Regions from separate parts of the Homo sapiens genome. Here region 2 is linked to region 1. Evidence: fine-mapped expression QTL. Tissue or cell type: nasal epithelium. Region 1 holds a variant in brackets; the other region holds the start of a gene. All regions are shown on one strand. Distances are between the middles of the regions.

Evidence for each region. PIP is the estimated chance that this variant, and not a neighbour inherited with it, causes the effect.
Region 2: it holds the start of PRMT8, and the variant in region 1 is fine-mapped to the expression of PRMT8 in nasal epithelium (TOPMed, PIP 0.99).

Annotation. Positions count from the first base shown.
Region 1 is chr12:3,571,192-3,573,874 of GRCh38, forward strand. All of the region lies in intron 6 of PRMT8 (protein arginine methyltransferase 8), which reads left to right. Among named protein-coding and RNA genes, the nearest start is that of THCAT155, 80 kb to the left of the region's middle. The variant C/G (reference allele first, on the strand shown) is at 1,467.
Region 2 is chr12:3,490,039-3,492,721 of GRCh38, forward strand. It overlaps PRMT8 (protein arginine methyltransferase 8), which reads left to right and starts at 1,165. Exons shown (of 10, transcript NM_019854.5): 1 at 1,165-1,662. The coding sequence starts at 1,588. All of the region lies in intron 1 of THCAT155 (thyroid cancer-associated transcript 155), which reads right to left.

The DNA of each region.
Region 1 (2,683 bases):
CTGACTGCCAAGCCCCTGGTGGCTCAGAATCTAGGACAGATGTACTCTCATGGAAGATTGCAGACACAACTCCACAGTGAGTGTTGATCAAATGCATGTATAAATAGGACATATTTTGCCCTGGAGCTGCATTTTGGAGTTCTTGCTGTGCAATTGTACTGAATAGTGTTTTGAGGAGGAAAGCTTCTAGGTACATTCTTCATTGTCAAGTTCACTTAGATATTTATTGAGCTCCAACCCGAGGCACACCTCTTTAAGAAACTTTCTCATGGTTTCCACAACAAAGATACCTGTGTCAGGAGCCTTTGCAGGTATGCACATTGCAATGAGCCAGCCTGGGGCAGGGAGGGGCTCCTAAGGCACTGGCCCCAGACTGGAGATCATGTGATTTCTTTGATTCTCATTGCAGTGTTCATACCTTTTGGAAAAGGAAAAAAAAAAATCTGAAAGTTAGCACCATGTTATCTTGTGCTTGTTCTAGAGTCTCTGAAAAATACCCCAACCTCCTCCCCACCCCAAAAGAACACCAAGAAACAGACACTTAAAATGTATTTAAAATACATTTTCTATTTACATTTTTGAAAATAATCTATTTTTTTGTAAAGGAAGCAAACCCACTTAGAAATTCATTTCAAATAAATGGAGACTTTGGTTACTATGAGTTCTAAATCAGAAGTAAAGCACAAAGGTTGCTGGTTGCTAAGGCAACAATTGTAAGCAATTTTCTATTGGCTCAAGAACCAGCTAAGAAGGAAAAATTTTGAAATGAGGCAGGAGAGTGAGACATGTTCAGCCCCTTTCAGAAAGTAAGTTGTTAGAGGGAGAGCTTTCTTTCCTTTCCTCTCCTTTCCTTTTCTTTTATTTCCTTCCCTCTCCTTCCCTTCCCTCCCCTCCTTTCTTCTTCTTTCTCAACCACACACAGCAACATGGGAGTGCAAGAATGAGGTCAGTGCAGAACCTGCCCTCCATTTGCTCACCAATGAATAGAGACCACATAGAGACAGAGATAAATATCTGGCATATACTAGGCTCACAATACATAATTTTAACGAAGGAAGGAAGGAAGGAAGGAAAGTGAACCAGCAGAGGGATGTGCAAGGTGTAGTATTTAACTCTTAGAGAGGAGCAATCATTTTACACACATTTTCTACTATAAAGGAAATACACAGAATTTCAAAAATGGAAGGAAACTCGGTGGATGTTCTATTCAATTTCATGCACAACCCATGAATTGTACCCAGTGCATGAATCTACACCCTGCTGAGAATGAGAGAGATGGGCACCAGTTTCTTGGCTGATGAGAAGACTGAAAGAAAGACCTCATGCAGAGGTGGCAGTGCTTATAGCTTGATGGTTGAAGGGCGGCCCTCTTGGATGGCTCAGCTGCTGTCTGTGGGCTTCACTTCCACTCATGACATCCAGAGTTTCCTCTGGTTCCAGCCCATTTTATGCAAGGATTCCACTTT[C/G]TTCATGAGAGCCTAAAATGTGTCAATCTAGTGTAAACACTTTCCCTTCTGCACAGAGGAGAATCTGTAAGTAGCATCTGGTGGCACTTGTTCTATTTTTCTCTGACCTCATTCTGAGGCAGTCCCATTAGCCTCATCAGAGAAACTCAGATGGTTGGGGCTGGGGTGGTGAGGGAGGATGTAGCTACAGCTCTCTGCAATCAGAAATCACATTTCTCCCCTGGTACTTAATTTTCTTTCCTCAGACTGTTTTTGAGATTTCTGTCTTTATTGATTTTCTGCAGTTTGATTCTGATGTGTCTAGGTGTGTTTTTCTTTTTATTTATCCTGCTTGGGGTTACATGGAATTCTTGGAACTGTGGATGGATTGTTTCGTTAGTTTAGAAAAATTTCAGCCAGTATCTCTACAAATATTTTTTTCTGCCTGATTATCTTTCTCCCCTTCTTCAGGAACTCCCATTATATGAAATAATGTTTGATATTGTCCTATGGAGCTTGGATCCTCTATTTTTTTCACCCCTTTTTTCTCTTTGTGTTTAAGTTTGGATCATTTTTATTGCCCCGTTTTCAACTTTATTGGTTATTCCCTGATATATTCATTCTGTTAATAAGTTCATTTTAAAAAGTCTTCTTTCCTTATATTGTTATTTCGATTTCTAACATTTCCACTGGCTTTTTTAAAAAGTTTCCATCTCGCTAATGAAATTCTCCATTCATTGATGCACACTGTCCACCTTTTCCACTAGCTTCTTTAACATACTTAGTATAGATACTTTAAAGTCTTGTTGGATAATTCTAACATCTGAGCATCTCTAAATTTGGTTCTATGACTTTTTTCTTATGATGATAAGTCATATTTTTCCCTTTCTCATGTGTCTTATAATTTTTCATTAATGCTGGGCATTGTGAGTAAAAGGACCAGTAGAGACAGGTGAATCACACCTATGTCCAGAAAAGAGCATTGCCTCTGCCAGGCTATTAGAATGAGGGTGTGTGTGAGTCAATCTAGTCTGTATTAATAGTAGATTTGGGCTTTGTTGTTGCTTTAATTACATACATTATGCCATAGTATAGTCCTTTTTAGGAGTCTGTTTTCATCCATTAACAAAAGCTTCACAGGCCTCTCTGATATTATTTTTTAATTTCTAGATAATCATGATATTTCTTGATGACCAATGGCTCTTACCCCACATACACTTATTTGGCATACAGCATAC
Region 2 (2,683 bases), 81 kb before region 1:
GAGGACAGTCAGGCTCACACTTCCCAGTTATCGAAGGTGATGATAAAAAGCAAATAGGGCATTTGGGAGGGACCTCCCCAAACAAGTACAGAGATGAAGTGAAGACAGCCGGGTGCTCAGGGAGCATCTTATAGGTCTCAGTCCTTGACTCGTAGGTTGAAAGCTTAAAAGTACAGCTGTTTTAAGGAGTCAGCCTGAGTGTCCTGTTGCAAAGGGAGAGGCAGAATGGGGTCCCCCGCTTTTGTTCTATCTCCCACTGCCCGACAGATGGCCAGTAAAACAGAGAAAAAGAAGCTCTCAAAGTGAAGACAGGAATGCATTGTATAAAAATTCACACCCCCTGCTGCCGCCCAAACTCCCTTAAAAAAGGATCAAGAGAATCCTGACGGGTACGTGACATCCTCCCTCTCTCCCATAAAAGGGACTTCAAAATCTGGCGATGGTGGGGGAAGGGTGAGGAGGGAGAAGAGAAATGCGTGGGCAGGGGGCTGCCAGGGAAGACTGGAGTGGGGGGGGGGGCACTGCAGTCTCGCATTTGACTTTCTCCCACCCTCTTTCCCAAGCCACTCTGGCCGCCACCTTTGCCCCTCCCTCTCAGCCTGAAAGGGGCTTGGAGTCCCAAGGGCTTTGGGTACAAAGAGAGAGAGAGAGAGAGAGAGAGAGAGAGAGAGAGAGAGAGAGAAAAGGATAAAGAATGACACCACACTTACCCCTAGAGTTGAAGGAGTTAAGGACCCTCCCCCATCCAGACACCCACCCCTTCGTTCCCCAAATCGTAATTCGCCGAGGAAGGATCCAGGAACTGGCAGAGGAGCGGGAGAGCTGGGGTGGGCCGGGGTGGGGAGGGTGCGAGTTAACTGTGGCCCGGTCTCGCCCGGACCTCGCCCTAGGTGGGAGCACGCGCACCGGGTCTGAGAACCTGCAAGAGCCTCGCCCGGCGCCGGCTTTCTCTGGGCCCCCCGCGCGGGCCTGGCCTCCACGTAAGTTGTGTGCAGCGCCAGGGAGTGGAGGCGGCCGAGACCCTCGGAGACTAGGGGAGGGGGCGGGCCCGGGGGCGCTGGGGGCCCTCGGTCTGCGCCCAGCCGCCGCCGGCTCCAGCGAACCTCCTACCCCGCCCCCACTCACCCGGCTCAGCCCCTAGGAGAGACGCGCAGGAAGCGTGTTGCTTCGCCCAGCGGATCGGCAGAAGTTGAGAGGAGTTGGCGGCTGCCTCCGGCCGGCCGGACTTTGCGAGCAGCCTGGAGAGGATCCGCGACCGCCGCCGCCGCCGCCGCGGAGGCTTCGGGGCTGCTTCCCTCGAGCTTAGCCCGCAGCGCGGGTGGAGAGGGGCGGGGAGGGGGTCGGGGGCACGAGAAGAACTTGAAACCGTGTGAAGGAATCCGGAGCAGATGAGAAGGGAGGAAAATAAAAGAAAGTGGAGACTGCAGAACAGACTCCGCTGTGGCTGACTGTGCCGGCCGACGCTCCAGCTGAGGGGCTGGGTTGGATTTTTTTTTTTCTCCCATCCTCTCGCTCTCTCTTTTAAAGCGACACCAGCTCTCTCTCCTCCTCTACTATCTCGGTATCACCAAACCCTTGCCGGCTCTTATGGGCATGAAACACTCCTCCCGCTGCCTGCTCCTGAGGAGGAAAATGGCGGAGAACGCGGCCGAGAGCACCGAGGTAAGGAGGCGAGCGAGCAGGGGCTCTCGGAGACCCCGCCGCCCACCCGGACCACCGCGCCGCCGCCGCCGCTCAGCGCCGAGTGCCAAACTTTCCCCAGTTTCATCCCGCTCGCTTCTGCCGGCCTCCTCCTGTGTGTGTGTGTGTGTGTGTGTGTGTGTGTGTGTGTGTGTGTGTGTGTGTGTGTGTTGGTGGGGGGTGGGGGGGAAGTTCATGTCTCAGGTCCCCTCCCTCTTGAAAATGCAAAACAGTCACTCTCACCCCATCACCCTCTCCTGCCACCCGCTGCTCCCTTCTCCCGCCCCCAAGTCCCAAACCCCGGGCAGCCGCGCTCCCCTGCCCTCTCCTCTGGGCTCCGTGAGGGCTCCCGGGTCCCGGCTTTGTGCAGAGCTGGGGTGGGTAATCCTGGGGCCAGGTCTGCCCCCTGCAGTGCCTTGACCGTCTCCTGCCGCTGCCTCAGCTTTACCCTTCAAGCTCGAGTCGGTTCCCGAGCTCTCCGTCCCCGCAGCCGCGCGGAGAGCCCCCGGCCGCGGGGGCCGAGCCGGCAGGAGGACTCGGGCACCTCCTACAGACCCTCCGGCCCAGATCTGGGCCAGAGAGAAGTCTGCAATCCTCAGATATCAGAGCCGCCTCTGGGTAGCTAAACCCGGCAGGGCACACGGGCCGCGGCCACCTTCAGCACCAGGGACAGCGTCCGCCCCTGCAGCAGCCGAGCCTGCGCGGACTGTGGGGGCTGCGCGCCGCCGGCTGCAGTGAGAAATGGGTCTGCAGCCACCCGTCCCGCAAGGGCTTTTGAGGAGGTCGCTCTAGCTCCGCAAATTGTGTTCTCGGCCCCCGCCTTCGGCAGCCTTTTTCTCTACTCTCCAGCTGGCCCTGAGCCGCAGAGAGCCCTGCTGGGCTTTGCGTCCCGAGACTCGAGGCTGTGATCCCTCGCCTCCCTCTGACCCCGCTGTCATTACAACAACCGGACTATTCCGTAGGCTCTGGGCACCTGTAGTCACGAAGGGGATCAGCGTGGGCA